Regions from separate parts of the Homo sapiens genome. Here all the other regions are reported to be linked to region 2. Evidence: microRNA targets listed by miRTarBase, many of them from high-throughput screens and not tested one by one. Region 2 holds a microRNA gene; each other region holds the end of a gene's coding sequence.

Evidence for each region. Region 2 holds the annotated microRNA hsa-miR-4786-5p (UGAGACCAGGACUGGAUGCACC, at 2,970-2,991, shown strand). A microRNA usually pairs through its seed, bases 2 to 8, with sites in the 3' UTR of a target mRNA and lowers its output. Matches are read on the target gene's strand: a 7mer-m8 pairs with bases 2 to 8, a 7mer-A1 pairs with bases 2 to 7 and ends in A, and an 8mer does both.
Region 1: the mRNA of PDK3 is a reported target of hsa-miR-4786-5p. The part of its 3' UTR that is shown has no 7-base or 8-base seed match.
Region 3: miRTarBase lists LRP3 as a target of hsa-miR-4786-5p. Seed matches in the 3' UTR shown: 7mer-A1 at 966-972 and 7mer-A1 at 1,119-1,125.
Region 4: miRTarBase lists ZNF714 as a target of hsa-miR-4786-5p. Seed matches in the 3' UTR shown: 8mer at 2,312-2,319, 8mer at 3,303-3,310 and 7mer-m8 at 3,330-3,336.

Annotation. Positions count from the first base shown.
Region 1 is chrX:24,533,788-24,537,844 of GRCh38, reverse strand. It overlaps PDK3 (pyruvate dehydrogenase kinase 3), which reads right to left. Exons shown (of 11, transcript NM_005391.5): 11 at 3,423-3,916. The coding sequence ends at 3,773. Among named protein-coding and RNA genes, the nearest start is that of PDK3, 71 kb to the right of the region's middle.
Region 2 is chr2:239,941,988-239,946,053 of GRCh38, reverse strand. It overlaps MIR4786 (microRNA 4786), which reads left to right and starts at 2,960; the gene lies at 2,960-3,039. It also overlaps a transcript of NDUFA10 not described here. RefSeq lists enhancers at 1-332, 475-584, 715-764, 333-1,269.
Region 3 is chr19:33,206,851-33,210,907 of GRCh38, forward strand. It overlaps LRP3 (LDL receptor related protein 3), which reads left to right. Exons shown (of 7, transcript NM_002333.4): 7 at 138-2,014. The coding sequence ends at 725. It overlaps SLC7A10 (solute carrier family 7 member 10), which reads right to left. Exons shown (of 11, transcript NM_019849.3): 8 at 3,952-4,048; 9 at 3,617-3,766; 10 at 2,458-2,635; 11 at 1,814-2,171. The coding sequence ends at 2,041. Among named protein-coding and RNA genes, the nearest start is that of LRP3, 15 kb to the left of the region's middle. RefSeq lists an enhancer at 267-768.
Region 4 is chr19:21,117,944-21,122,000 of GRCh38, forward strand. ZNF714 (zinc finger protein 714) reads left to right here. Exons shown (of 5, transcript NM_182515.4): 5 at 1-4,057. The coding sequence ends at 389. Among named protein-coding and RNA genes, the nearest start is that of ZNF431, 22 kb to the right of the region's middle.

The DNA.
Region 1 (4,057 bases), not on the chromosome of region 2:
AGCAATATTGCGTAGCAGTCCACCATGACACTTCCATAGAAAAAAATAAACATCCATATGGATATCATTTATAACACTTGTCAGAGAAGACCAACGCTACTAAATGGTACAATACTGCAAAGCTATATAAACTGTATTTGTGTACAAATATCTTTCTGTTGCATTGTGTTAAAGATGTTAAAAATCAAGGTTTTCAGGATAATAAGAAATATATACAATTAAAATATATTGGGGAGAAACATTACAATGTTAAAATAGAATAAAATATCAATATGAACTTATGATTTAAAATATATTTTAAATATAGCTATATTTTATAGCTCTGTCTGTCAAGGAAAAGGGCCTAAAAAAGGTATAACAAGCATCCCCAATTATCAGATTAGCATCTCTAATACTGATTAAAAAGAAACAGGGCTGGGTGCAGTGGCTTATGCCTGTAATCCCAGCACTTTGGGAGGCCAAGGCAGGCAGATCACCTGAGGTCAGGAGTTCGAGACCAGCCTGGCCAACATGGCGAAACCCCAACTCTACTAAAAATACAAAAAAAAAAAAAAAAAAAAAATAGCCAGGCGTGGTGGCTCATGCCTGTAGTCCCAGCTACTTGGGAGGCTGAGACATGAGAATCGCTTGAACCCAGGAGGTAGAGCTGCAGTGAGCTGAGATTGCGCCACTGCACTCCAACCTGGGTGACAGAGTGAGACTCTGTCTCAAAAAAAAAAAAAAAAAAGAAAAGAAAAGAAACAAGACTCCTTGAGGGAAACAGTTGATTCTAGGACACAGGCACAGAAGGTATAAGATGAATCTAGGATATCATCTTGGGCAAGAAAAGCTTTCAAAGATTAATGAGTTTTGGCAATAGAACACTAAGGATCCAGCTGGAAATAGCTCTCATTGGCCAAAGGTATGTCAATTCAAGCATCAAAAAGGAAAATGACTGTTACATGCAATAACATGGATGAATCTCACATAAAGCCAGACACAAAAAGAGTATAGACTATGTGTTCCTTGTAAATTCAAGAAGAGAACCTATGGTGATAGAGTTAGAAAAGCAATTATATGGTGGAGGAGGGAGGGACAACTGTTTGACTAGAAAGGAGTCTTTGTGGGTAGAGGAAATATAGATGTAAAAAAAAAAGCTGTAAACTTAAGATGTGTGCACTTTACTATTACTATATGTTATGCTTCAATAAAATAAGTGCCAATTAAAACATATCAAAGTAACAAAATCTACTATAACACTAAAAAAGACAAAGCCATAAACTCATTTGTTAACCATTTAAGGTGGCTTTTAACATATTTCTTACCTGGAAAATTGGTAACTTGAAGGGAATTTAATTGTCCCTTTAAATTTAAAAGGAAGGAGTTAAACAGTTACCAGAGGAACTGTACTTCAAAATACCTAAATGGCCTTATTTGATGAGGAAGAGCTTTACTTTATAGGAGAATAATTGACAAAGGAATGATTTAAAAAAAAAACATTCTTTTATAAACCCAAATAAAATTACTGTGTTAATTTTAACACAGGCCGAAATGATCAATTGGGGTAAAAACCATTAGGTGAACAGCTGATGGGTAAGTATACATTTGCATAGTGCCAAAATAACACCACACAGATTATTTTCTAGTGAAAAAGGGAAAAATAACTATAACTCAGAGGGATCAGACAGCCATCACCTAAACTATGCTCAATCATAACATCACTAATGGTGGGTCAATGAGATGTCATGGGTCTCAGTGTAATTCTGCAACAGTGTTTATGGATATTCTAGCAAAAAATGCTCCATTAGCTCTTTCCTTTCCTTTCCTTCCCTTCCCTCCCCTCCCCTCCCTTCCCCTTCCCCCTCCCTTTCCTTCCTTCCTTTCTTCCTTTCCTTCTTTTCCTTCCTTTCCTTCCTTCTTTTCCTTCCTTTCCTTCCTTCTTTTCTTTCTTTTTTTTTTTTTTGACCAGCATGGACAACATGGCAAAACCCTGTCTCTACTAAAAATATAAAAATTAGCCAGGCATGGTGGCCCACGCCTGTAATCCCAGCTACTCAGGTGGCTGAGGAATGAGAATCACTTGAAGCCAGGAGGCAGAGGTTGCAGTGAATGATCATTGACATGGAAAGATGGGATGGTTAAATGAAACAAAAGCAGGTTGTAAAATAGTATGAATAGTGTAATCTCATTTGCAAAAAAAATACATATATACACAAATGGCAAAATATCTGGAAGAATATACACGAAGCTATAGCAGTGGCAATCTCTGGGTTTTGGGAACACAGAGGTTTCTCCTTCTTTTTTGGCTTACTTATGTTTTCTTTCTTCTTCTTCTTCTTCTTCTTTTTTTTTTTTTTTTTTGAGATGGAGTCTAGCTCTATCGCCCAGGCTGGAGTGCAGTGGTACTATCTTGGCTCACTGCAACCTCTGTCTCCTGGGTTCAAGCAATTCTCCTGCTTCAGCCTCTCAAGTAGCTGGAATTACAGGCGTGTGCCACCACACCCGGCTAATTTTTGTATTTTTAGTAGAGACAGAGTTTCACCATATTGGCCTGGCTGGTCTCCAACTCCTGACTTCAAGTGATCCACCCACCTCGGCCTCTCAAAGTGCTGGGGTTACTGGCGTGAGCCACTGCGCCCAGCCAATGTTTTCTTATTTTTTATAATGCACATATACTGCTTTTTTGTTAATACAGGATTATTTTAAGTTAAATGAAGCAGAACCCCACTGTTGCTAGTAGAGTTGAAGCTTAAGGGTACATAGTCAGAAGAAAACTACAGATTATTTTCCTTATTACCATAAAACAGTGAAACTTGTTCTGTGATTGATAACTTTTCCTTTATAATGTTAACATTTTTTATTGTGATAAGCTATACATAACATAGAACTTACCACCTTTTTCTTATTTGAGACACGGTCTTATTCTGTCCCCCAGGCTGGTGTGCAGTGGTGCGAATCATAGCTCACTACAGCCTGGAAGTCCTGGGCTCAAGTGATCCTCCCGCCTCAGCTTCCTGAGTAGCTAGGACTACAGACCCACACCACCACACACGGCTAATTTTACCTTTTTAAATTTTTTGCTGAGACAGAGGTCTCACTATGTTGCCTAGGCTGGTCTTGAACTCCTGGCTTCAAGAGATCATCCAGCCTCAGCCTCCCAAAGTGTTGGGATTACAGGCGTGAGCCACCACACCCAGCCCAGAACTTACCATCTTAACCATTGCTACATGTACAGTTCAGTGGCATTGAGTACATTCACGCTGTTGTGCAAGCATCACCACCATCCATCTCCAGAAGTTTTTCATCTTTCCACCTGAAACTTTGTACCCATGAAACAATGCCTCCCCATTCCATCTTCGTCGCTAGCCCCTGGCAACCTCCCTTCCACTTTGTGTCTCTGCATTTGACTACTCTAGGTACTTCACATAAGTGGAATCATAGTATTTGTCCTTTTATGTCTGGTTTATTTCACTTAGCATAATGACTTCAAGATTCACCCATGTTGCAGCACATATCAGAATGTCCTTCCTTTTTAAGGCCAAATAATATTCCATTGGATGGATAGATCACCTTTTATCTTGATTGATCATTTTAACTTATTTTTCAGTTTCAACCTACAACGTTTATGAGGACAAACTGCAAACTTAATTGCTTTTTAAATAAAATTGATGGCAGGCCAAATCCCTGCTTGCTGTTGTGAATACCTCTACACTGCAAGAATTCCTGGAACAGTGAGTGGGACACCTTTATTCAGACAAATCAGATACTTTGTAATGGAAATCAAGGTGGTATATTACTGTTTTGCTTTGTATTTTGAAGCATCCCTGGGTTCACTGCTGGGATTGCTCCAATCATCGGCTTCAGGCGTGGTCTTGTAATGGCGCCATGCGGACTTATTAAAAACTGGAAGTCTCTCAAATGACTCACTTGAAAGAGCCTATTGGAGAAACAAAAATATACACCAAAGGTCGACAGTGTCATTTTTCTCAAGTGAAATAGTAACCCAAATTTTATTATTTAAAACATCAGAAACCTTAATACATATTTTCAAAATGATATTAAAATTACACCTTAGTAG
Region 2 (4,066 bases):
TGCCCTGGAAGCCTGGGCTCCCTGTTCAGAACGGAATCCCTGGGGCCCTCCTCTCCTGTCCTGGTCTGGGGGTGCAGCTCATTATGTGAGGCTCTGGGCTGCTTCCTGTCCGCAAGCGGATCCCATTCTCAGCGCAGTGTCTTCCACCCTCCTGCTCCAGGCACCTGGGTTGCACACAGGGTGCTTCTGGCTTGCAGTCCCGGAGCCCTGTGGGCCCTTGAAGCCTGGGGACGGCCTTCAGGGGGGTCTGGAGTGGTCCACTCTGCACGTTTGGCCGTGATGCCTGGTTGAGCTGCAGCACTTCTCTTGGTGTGCACATTCATTGTGTGTTTAAAAAATACAAAGTAACTGGGTGGAAGCTCTGGAGATGCTTCTGCTCTGACATGCTGGTTTTCATCCCAGGGCCAATCGATCCATTCCGTGAGAAAACTGTTCATGAAGGACCAGTGTGTGGCCAAGTCCTCCCTGGAGGGAGCCTCAGCCCCCAGGATCCTCCCAGCCTGGCCATACGGGGTAGACTGCAGCCCTGACCGGCTCGGTGGGGCGCAGGGAGCCTCGCGGTGCAGCCTGCGTTCCGGTTGGGGTGTCCGCTCTTCCCCCGAGGGGCCTCCCAGCGTCTTTGAAAGGAGCTGGAGCGACGCTCAGAGGTGAGGAGCTTGGTCTGGGTAGCAAGGAGGCTCTGATTTCCTGTCTCCACTCAGCAGCAGCGTGACTTTGGGCAAATTGCTGATCTGTGAGCTCGTGTCTTCCTGGCTGCAAAGCAGGAGGAATGATGGCGCTGCCGCTGCGGTTGTGCAAATGAAGGAGCCCAGCGTCTGCAGAGCGGCCTGCTCAACGCCTGCCGGTGACCTGAGAAGTGGCTTGTCATTTCCTCCCCAGTCAGGCCCTCCTGCGGGAGGGGTGCCGGGGCTCTGATGGCTGTACACGTGCCTGGGTTTCTGTAGAGGATAGAGAGAGGAGAGGCAGGGAGGCTTGCCTGGGAGTCTGCTACCAAAACCATGGAATTCTGTCTCGGGGAGGCACCTTGCAATAAAGAAGCAGCCTCCACAGGCCCCCTGGGAAGTCACCCCCATGGCTGTGTCTGGAGATGAGCTCTGGGCGCGGGGTGCAGCCTGGGAGGGCCAGTGTGCCCCCCACCTAGGGTGGTCCTGCAGCCTTTGCCTTCTATTGCGGATGGTGGCGGGTTGGCCGAGCTTTGGGGACCAGTTTCCTCCAAAGTTACTATGGCCCCAAGGCTCTGGGGACAGGGGCAGGTGGCTCTGGGCGTGGACAGAGCTTGCTCCTTGAGCTGGAAACCCTGGCTAACGAGCGAGCAGAGGCCCTGGGACCACCAGGGGCTGTCGAGCTGCACTCTCCAGGCTGCCAGAGGCTTCCATTAGGCACACTGGTGTTTGATTTTGTTTCCTTGGAAGACCTGGAGTTTTTGTCGGTTCTGAGTCATTTTTCTTGATCCGCGCTGCCAGTTCCATGAAGAAAATCACTTTCAAACAGATGTGGAGGAAAGTGCACCTCCTCACTTGTCCAGACCCGGCCTGAATTCACATGGAAAGGTAATCATTTCCCGCCATGAGCTCACTGAGAGTCTGACAGCACTGTGAGGGGAGGTGGCCAGCCAGGCACCCAGCCTGAGCCGTGACCAGAGGTCCGAGCCAGAGATGCAGCCTTGGGATCTCAGCCTGCGGCGCTGGCCCTGGGGCCACACTCAGCATGGGGGACGCCAGGCTGGAGCAGACGCCAGACCCAAACAGCCGCTCTGCCCCCGGGGACTTTGGCAAGGCTGCTGCCTACGTGAAATGATGGAAAGGTCTAGGCTGGCCCCAGGTCCTTTCTGGCATGGCCTCAGGATCTTGGCAGGAGGATAACAATGCCAGGAGGGGGTGGGCTGAGTCATGTGCCTCCTCTCAGGGGCCTGGCTGCAGTGGTCAGGGGCAGGGTGGCTCATTTTGCGGGCACCGGTGCCCTGCACCTGGAGGAGGACCAGCAACAGGACTAGCCAGGTGGCCGCAGGCCCTTAGGACACAGGGGAGGCCCAGGATTTATGGGAAGGAAGGAGCAGAGCACCTGAGTCTGGGGACATCTCGGGACAGGCACTGCCCCCAGCAGCCTCAGCTTCCCCCCATAAAAGGGACAGACGCTGCCCCATGCCTTTAGCTCCATCACTGTCCAGGGACAGGGACTAAACCCTAGACCCCTCATCCCCAAGGAGTCTTGGACTGCAGGTCCAGCTCTGCAGAGGGGCTGCAGGGAGCATCCAGGGCCCATACTCGTCTGCTCATCTCTCAGTCTCTGTGTTTATGGAACACCAGGGGATGCCAGTGCTGTGCCAGGAGGGGCGGTCGGTGCTGAGTGAGGCCTGCTTCCCAAATCAGGCACATTCTTATGAGACTAAGATTTGTCCCTGCTCATGGACATTAAAAAAATGTCAAAGACAGCAGGATTAAGCGGAATCACAGTGTCCTGCCCCCAGTCCCTAACAGAATAGAAAGGAAAAACTAGAAAAATAATCCCAGCAGAAAACAAACAAGGCCATACACTTTGAAAATTTGTAGCCAAAGACCAGGTGTAGTGGCTCACGCCTGTAATCCCAACACTTTGGGAGGCTGAGGCGGGAGGATCACTTGAGCCCAGGAAATTGGGGCTGCAGTGAGCTCTGATTGCGCCACTGCACTCCATCCAGCCTGTGTGGCACTGTGAGACCCCATCTCAAAAAAAAAGAAAGAAAAATTAGTAGCCAATAAAATAAGCAAAAGATTTCAGAGTAGAGCAGAAGGCAGATTCGTGTGGCTCTGACCTGCCACCAAGCCTGAGTCCCACTGGTACACAAGCGGAGCCCCAGGCCGCCTCTGTGCTTGGGATCTGGAGACAGGGAGTCTTGCAATGCCTCTGGCAGACATGGGAAGATAACTGTGAGTTGAAACTCTCCGTAAGAAGTGGAGGCTCCAGGGATGCGTTGGCCTGTGGGCATGGCCTGAGACCAGGACTGGATGCACCACTCTCCCTGTGATGAGGTGAAGCCAGCTCTGGTCTGGGCCATTTCACAGGATTCCAGAAGCAGGAGCAGAGCCTCAGCATTTGAACGAACCTTCTTCCACTTCGGCTGAGCTCCTCCTGCCACCACCATCCTTGCAGGCTTCCCGAAGGTGGCCTGAACACAAACTGCCTGGGCTTCCTGTGGCTAAGAGGGGAAGACGAGCCTTTGCCAGGTTTTGTGGAAAGAGTTAAAACCCCTCCAGTGCTGTGTTAAAACATATGAGGACCCAGTCAGAGCTGCTCGGGCTTGAAGAGAATGGAAAGGCAGGGAAGGGGAGGGCAAGTGACAGGCAAACGTCCCACAGAGAAACCCGTGACTCAGTGCTGGAGAAGGGACCACAGCATGCGCAAGATAAACATGCGGAAGGCAGAGGACGCACAGCTCGTGAACAGAAAAAAAAAATATTCCTGTGCTTTGCCTAAGAGAACAGTTTGATAAGAACATGAATTCAATAAAATAAATGTCAACAACGTATAAGACTAAGAAATGAAAATAAGATGTCAGACCTCAGGAAGCAAACAGAACCGAAACAGTGTCAGAACCAAACCAATACATTTCAAACAGCAACAAACGACATAGCAAGGCTGAAATTGCTATTGACAGAAATCCATCGTTCTCCAAGTGTGGCTCCTGGACCAGCGGCCCCAGCCTCCACCTGGGAGCTTGTCGGAAATGCAGGTGTCTAGGCTGCACCCAGGCCTGCTGGCTCAGGCGCCCTGGTGGGTGGGCCCCAGCAGCATCTGTGTTTAGCAAGGTGATTGCAGCGCACACTACCGCGTGAACACCGCTGCCCTAGAGGAAAGGCTGAAGACAGCCACAGTAAGTAAAGGTAAACGTGGTAGAGGGATGAAAACTGTTGTGAACTTTGTATATGTAAAACTAATTTATAGGAAGGTGGACAAAGGCAGTCCGGCAAAAGAATCACTGGTGTTCAGACCAAAGTGATTCCAAGTGAAATAGTTTGTGCACACATGGTGTGATCTTTCAATATGCAGAATCCATTTGTTTTTCTCATTTCAGAGGATTTTAAAATCT
Region 3 (4,057 bases), not on the chromosome of region 2:
CATGGCCAGGTGGGGGGGGTGGACAAGGTGGTCTCTCGGGTCTCAGGTCCCTTGGGGGTGTGCTGTCTCCTGCCCCTGAGCAGCCTGTCTGCCCCCTCAGCCGCATCCCCCCGCCCCTACCCTGCTCCACCCCACAGGCCTCTGTGCTGCAGAATCTTCGCACAGCCATGCGGAGACAGATGCGTCGGCACGCCTCCCGCCGGGGGCCCTCCCGCCGCCGCCTCGGCCGCCTCTGGAACCGGCTCTTTCACCGGCCGCGGGCGCCCCGAGGCCAGATCCCACTGCTGACCGCAGCACGCCCCTCACAGACCGTGCTGGGCGATGGCTTCCTCCAGCCTGCTCCAGGGGCTGCCCCCGACCCCCCAGCACCGCTCATGGACACAGGCAGCACCAGGGCGGCCGGAGACAGGCCCCCCAGTGCCCCCGGCCGTGCACCGGAGGTGGGACCTTCAGGGCCACCCTTGCCCTCGGGCCTGCGAGACCCAGAGTGCAGGCCCGTGGACAAGGACAGAAAGGTCTGCAGGGAGCCACTGGTAGACGGCCCAGCTCCTGCAGATGCACCTCGGGAGCCCTGCTCAGCCCAGGACCCGCACCCCCAGGTCTCCACTGCCAGCAGCACCCTGGGCCCCCACTCGCCAGAGCCACTGGGGGTCTGCAGGAACCCCCCGCCCCCCTGCTCCCCAATGCTGGAGGCCAGCGATGATGAGGCCCTGTTGGTCTGTTGACCGCTGGGCTCGCTGGTGACCGCCACAGCCCCGCTTTGTAACCAGGGAATACACAGTCATTTCTACCCTGCCTCTGCGTCCTTTCTTATGGAGAGGCCCTCCGGGGACCCCAGCGGAGGGGCTGGCCCCTAAGCCAGCTGGCTGCACTGGTGGGCGGGAGCTGTGGGACTGAACGGCGGGGGGGAGAAGAGTGGAGTGGTGAGCCCGTCTGCAGGGTCCCATTGTACACAAGCACCCTGGGGTCTCACTTCTCTCCCCCCACTCCATTCTGGGAACCCATTTCCAGAGAAGCAGGGGACCAGAGCCTTTTTGCTTCATCTGCCCTGCAGTGGCAACAGCTGCCCCTAGAGCTGGGAGTTGTCATGAGGATGGGGCCGGGCCATGGGGACGCTGGGTCTCATCCGTGGTGACTATTTTGCTCACGCCTCACCCTCTTCCTGTCCAGCAAGGCCTCTGGAGGACCTGGGTTGGGTGGCTCCTGCCAAACCCTCATGCCCCTGGCCAGGCAGGCGCCCTTTGCCCTCCCTGAAGGTCCAATCTCCTGGGCACCGTGGAAGGGCTGGGGTGTGTGCCTGCTGTACATGAAGCCCCTGGAGTTCCCTGCAGGCCTCAAAGCCCCCAGGACATGCTGCTCTGTGCTTTCTGGGGACAGAGAGGCCGAGGCACCAACAGCAGTGGCCACGTCTGTTCCATCCTATCTCAGGGCCTCGGTTTCCCCACCTGTAAGCCAGGGTGAGACTGTGGGCTCTGAAGTCCTGACCTTCACTCTGTGGTGATTTACGGGAAGAAAGACAATCCCAGCCTGGAGCCCCTGAGCTCTCCTGGGTGGCCGAGCTCAGACTGGCATCGAGGGGCCTGGGGTAGGGGCGGACTGAGCTGCTACCCCATCCTCGACATCCCTTTAGGGCAGGGGGACTCTGGGTGCCATGGTAGGGAGCGCCTGTGTCAAGCAGCAAAGCCCCCTAATGTCAAGAGCCTCCTCCAGGGCCTGCCACGGCATCTTCCTGGCCAGCAACATGTGTGCACCCACCGAGGTACGCCCCAGCCACTCCCATCTGTGCCCATCAGGGACTCCCCATAGCACGAGCGAACAGCCAGCCCTGTTTATTTATAGGCCTTTTCAGGAAGAGCTAGCAGGGCAGTGCTAAGACAGGAAACCCAGTCCACATTTTAGGGCTTCCTTAAACAGGCTTCTGAGAGTCGTATCTTTTTTCTTTTTTTTCCAGAAAAAAACAAAACAAAACTTTTTTGCCAAAACACCTCCTCAATAAACAACATGTAAACAGAAACAACTGCTTCAGTCTCTACAAAAATCTCATTGTGGCTTCGAGGGCTTGTCTGTGGCAGGCAGCAGGGAGGGTGGGCAGGGGCCATTCTCCTCCTCTTCGGGGGCGTCCTGGGGGTAGACCACGAAACACAGCTCCTGGCCCCAGTGTGTCATGGACTCTGAGGACAGACAGATGGACCTTGGGGCCTGACCTCTCGGGATAGGGGTGACCCCCAGCTCCGGACACCTCCCCTTGGGCAGGGGTCTTCAGGGAGTTGCTCCGTCGGTACCCGTGGTTCTGGAAACTTTGGGTACATCTTGGGAAGAGACATTTGGTGGCGGCTGGGCCCTGTGTTCCCACCTCAGCTGCTAGGACACCCTGCTCTGGGGTGAGCCTCTAAGAGGGAGGTCTGGTCTCCAGGCCCCGGCCCCCTGTGCTGGGTGACCTGCAGCTGCCCGGCTCACCTGTGAGTCTGTGCACACACTTTGGTTTGCTTCTCCAGAACACTCCCAGAAAGAAAATGGGCACCCCCGTAAGGATGATGATGACGCCGACCCCACAGACCATAGGCTCTGAGATGAAGCTGAAGACCAGCAGGAAGGCCCAGAAGACCAAGTACGCCACGGGGATGAGAAGGTTCACCTGGGGAAGGGGGAGCAGAAACACCGATGGTGCAGGGCCTCCAGCTGTCTGTACCCCCGACCCCTGGGGGTCTGGGGAATTTTCCTCCCTTCCCTGGGAGCTGAGGCCTGAAGGGCAATTGCACCCACTACACCCCCTCTTGGCGACAGCCCAGTGTGTTGGAGGCCAATTCATGGGTCAGGCCGTTGGCCAGTTTTGCTGAGGATTTTTCAAAGTCTCAGCGGCACCGAGCTCCACACAGCGGTTGCGTGTGGACTTGAGGCTTGCACTTGGCTGGAGGTCAGTGATTTTTTGGTGTTTCACATTTCAGGCACTGAGCACTTCTCCACTTAAGGATTTATACACACATGGGGGGCTTTGCTTTTAGCTCAGGCTATGGTCTTCTGTTTTTGTGTGGGCTCATGAAATCCTGGCAGCCTTTGTGACCTTGAACAGTTCCTGAGTCTCATTTTCTTTAATTTTTTTTTTTTTTTGAGACAGGGTCTCCCTCTGTCACCCAGGTTGGAGTACGGTGGCCCTAGCACCGCTCACTGCAGCCTCAACCTCCCGGGCTCAAGCGATCCTCCCATTTCAGCCTCTCAAGTAGCTGGGACCACAGGTGCGCACCACCACACCAGGCTAACCCTTTTATTTTTAACTTTTTGCAGAGAGGAAGTCTCGTTATGTTGCCCAGGCTGGTCTCAAACTCCTGGGCTCCAGCAATCCTCCCACCTCGGCCTCCCAAAGTGCTGGAATAGGCATGAGCCCCTGTGCCCAGTCCTGAGCCTCATTTTCGCCATCTGTACACTGGGAGCATTCAAAGCTCTGTCCTCATGGGGCTGCTATGAGGAATGGCTGCCTCAGTGCACAGAGAGCCCTGAGCAGGGCCCAACACTCCACAAAAGCTGGCACCTCCCATCCCACCTGCCCCTGGTGCCCACTGTGGATGCAGGGGTGGCTCTGGCAGCACCCGGCACAGGGCCAGCTGTCCCAGGGCCTCACCTTGATGGGCCTGTGGAGTGCAGGCCGCCTCCAGCGCAGCAGCAGCAGGCCCAGGATGGTGACGCCGTAGCAGAGGTAGTTGATGAAGGACACATAGTTGATGAGCGTGTACGTGTCGCCCACGAGCATGATGACGGCTGTGGCCCCGCACTGGGAGAGGACCTGGGGCTGACGGCTGGCCCCTAGCCTGCCTCCTGACGCCCCTGCAGGATGAGCCCTGGCCCCACCCCCAACCCCCACCCTGGAATGGCTCACCCCTGCCATTACCCGGAAGGTCCTGCATTGCCGGGTAGCCCTGCCTCCACGCCCTGCCTGGCCCAGGTCCCCCAACTTACACAGACGAGGAGGGCGGGGATGGGGGTGCAGTGTCTGACGTGGATCATGGCCAGCAGGCTGGGCAGGTGCCCCTCGCGGGCTCCAGAGAAGCACAGCCTAGCGTTG
Region 4 (4,057 bases), not on the chromosome of region 2:
GTGAAGAATGTGGCAAAGCTTTTAACCGATCCTCAAACCTTACTACACATAAGAGAATTCACACTGGAGAGAAACCCTACAAATGTGAAGAATGTGGCAAAGCTTTCAACCGATCCTCAAACCTTACTAAACATAACATAATTCATACTGGAGAGAAATCTTACAAATGTGAAGAATGTGGTAAAGCCTTTAACCAATCCTCAACTCTTACTAAACATAGGAAAATTCAGCAGGGCATGGTGGCTCATGCCTGTAATCCCAACACTTTGAGAGGACTAGGTGAGCAGATCGCGAGGTCAGGAGTTCAAGACCAGCCTGGCCAACATGGTAAAACCCCATCTCTACTAAAAATACAAAAATTTGCTGGGTGTGGTGGCAGGCGCCTGTAATCCCAGCTACTTGGGAGGCAGAGGCAGGAGAATCATTTGAACCTGGGAGGCAGAGGTTGCAGTGAGCCAAGATCGCGCCATTCTACTCCAGCCTGGGCCACAAGGCAAGACTCTGTCTCAAAAAAAAAAAAAAAAAGAAAAGAAAATTCATACTGGAACGAAACCCTACAATTGTGAAGAATGTGCCAGTGCTTTCAACCAGTCCTCGAACCTTTTTAAGAAAATAATTTATACTGGAGAGAAATTCTACAAATGTGAAGAATATGGCAAAGCCTTTAACCAGTCTTCAACTCTTACTAGGCATTAAAAATTCATACTGTACAGAAACCCTACGAGGGTGAAAAACATGGCAAAGCCTTTAACAAGCCCTCAATTCTTAACAGACATAACATAATTCATACTGGAAAGAAACTCTGCAAACCAGAAAGATCTGGCAATGCTTTTGACAACACCTCAAACTTTTCTAACCATAAAAGAAATTATACTGGTGAGAAATCTTAGAAATCTGAAGAATGAGACAAAGCCTTTAAATGGTTGTCACACTTGATTGTAGGTAAGATAATTCATACTGGAGAAAACACCTACATGTGTGAACAATGTGGCAAAACTTAACCAGTGCTCACACCTTATTGCACAGGAAAGCATTTGTACTTGAGATAAATTATACAAATATAAAGACTGAAAAAGCCATTAATATATGTTCATATCTCAACACCAGATAGTTCATACTTAATAAAAGCATTATAAGTACAATTACTGTCAAAAGACCTTTCAGAAAATACAAGCTTTTGACCAGGCGTGGTGGCTCAGGCCTATAATCCCAGCACTTTGGTAGGCCAAGGCAGGTGGATCATGAGGTCAGGAGTTTGAGACCAGCCTATCCAAGATGGTGAAACCCCATCTCTACTAAAAATACAACAATTAGCCGGTTGCGGTGGTGGTGCCTGTAATCCCAGCTACTCAAGAGGCTGAGGCAGGAGAATCACTTGAACTTGGGGAGGGAGAGGTTGCAGTGAGCTGAGATTGCACTCTAGCCTGGGCCACAGAGCAAGACTCCATCTAAAAAGTAAAAAAAAAAGAAAATATGAACTTTACAGTGAAGAATATTTATTTTGAAGATGAATGTTACAAATATAAAGTGGGTAGTAGTGCCTTTACTTGTATCACAGATCTTATTGTAGACATTTTTTGTAGAGGAAAAACTCTGAAGCACTTTCACACTTTGTTCAATATCAGGGAATTTATATTGAAGAAAAATCATGCAAATGTAGTAAATTTGGAAAAACACTTTTTCAAAAACTACAGCTTAGAAAACAGAGTTCATACTAGAATATATTTTTGCAGATGCAGTAAAAGTTAAAAAAAATTTAATCCATAAGTAAGTCTGTGTAAATATCAGAATTTATGGTAGAAATACATAAGGCACTGACAACATCAGATATACTAAATCAGAGGGCTGAGTATAGAAAATTAAAGTTGGTAGAAAAATTATTTGTATATAACTTTAAGAGGATCAGAAGGTTTTTTGCAGTTATAATTACATTCAAAGTATACTTTATTTCTTGAAAAATATTACAGATTTTTTGAAAAGTGAATAATGATGTCATTCAACTCTGAAATTCCTGCCGTTTCTTCATTCCTATTGGATTCACATGTGAAAGCATGGGATCAATTATTGCTGTATCAAAGATATGAAAGATTCTTTCTTTGTTTTGTTCTGTTTTTTTGAGATGGAGTTTTGCTCTTTCGTCCAGGCTGGAGCACAGTGGCATGATCTCGGCTCACTGCAACCTTCAATTTCCAGTTTCAAGCGATTCTCCTCCCTCAGCCTCCTGAGTAGCTGGGATTACAGGCGCATATCACCACGCCCAGCTAATTTTTATGTTTCTAGTACAGACAGGATTTCATCATGTTGGCCAGGCTGGTCTCAAACTCCTCACCTTGTGATCCACCCACCTTGGCCTCCAAAGGTGCTGGGATTACACAGGCATGAGCCACTGCTCCTGGCAAGAGATTCTTTTTTATTAGGTGGGCATTATTTGTGATCTTTTCTATTGAAAAGTAAAAACATTAGAATGTAAGATGCATAATGAAAATGTAAGTGGAGAGGTTCTTTGGGGTTAACTTATAATATTGAGTGGTGCATGAGGTTGGTGTTCAGAGTAATATTCTGCATTATGAAAAAACATTTAATTTTATTTAAAATTTAGTTTATCATACTAATTGTACTTTTATATAAGATGCAGTACATTTTTAAAATTTTAGATTGTGTGAAGTTAATAGTTTAACATTTTTAACATGTTAAATACTATTGTGCATTCAATGAAGCATTATTATACCACAAACTTTACCCTGTTCCACCTTACTGAAGGGTATAGGTAAAAGATGGTAACGATATACTATTTAGTAACATAATGGATTAACATCTCTAGTAATTTTTTTTGCCAGTGGCTTTAAACCGCAAATAAGTTAAAGAATATTGTTTCTGTAGGTTAAATTTTTATTTTGTTTTTAATCATTTAAATTTAATTTTGGTGGGTACATAATATGAGTATATATTTATGCACTTATATGGCATATTTTAGTACAGGAATACAATATATAATAGTAGCATCAGGGTTAAGTGAGGCATCCTTCACCCATAGCATTTCTCCTTTGTTTTACAAACAATCCAAACCTACACTTTTTAAAAATTTTTTGTTGTTGTTGTTCTTGTTGTTGTTGAGACGGAGTCTCGCTCTGTCGCCCAGGCTGGAGTGTGCAATCTCGGCTCACTGCAAGCTCCACTTCCCGGGTTCACGCCATTTTCCTGCCTCAGCCTCCCAAGCAGCTAGGACTACAGGCGCCCACCACCATGCCCGGCTAATTTTTTGTATTTTTAGTAGAGATGGGGTTTCACCATGTTAGCCAGGATGGTCTCAATCTCCTGACCTCGTGATCTGGTCTCGATCTCCTGACCTCATGATCTGCCTGCCTTGACCTCCCAAAGTGCTGGGATTACAGGCATGAGCCACCGTGCCCGGCCACTTTTTATAAATTTTAAAATGTACAATTGTTATTTACTATAGAGTTATTTTTATGGTCATAATACAAATTATATATGAGTATAAATAAAATTCATTTCTAAACTATTAATATTTTTTCCAAATTGTTATATATTTTTCTTTGAACATGTGGCCTGTCTGCCTGCAAACATGCAGACTTTTTGATTCACATAGAGTTAAATATGTATTAGTCTAAAGACAAACTTTAGGTGTAAGAAAATTATGGAATAAGTGTGTGTGTGTGAGTATGAGTTTGTACCTATTTTCAGAAAAGAACAATATGGGAATAAAAATCATTTTAATAAGGTGGCTACTATAAAACTAAAAACCTTAAAAAATGCTGAAAGCAAATGTATACTTTGTGCTTTGTATTGAATTTATTACTGTACAATCCATGACTTACAGTTCTGAACCTTTTCATGCAAATTCTCTGTATATACTTGCCTGGTACTCATGCTAGACCCATACTTTTTTTGTTTCTTACATTTTTTTTGTTTTATGGTTTAGGAAGTATTCATTATATGAGCTGGTCTGTGATTATAAGAATTTTTATGAAATTTAGTGCACACAAAATAATTTTTAGATGTAATTCCAAAAGTAGTGTATTAAGTTACATTTTATTTA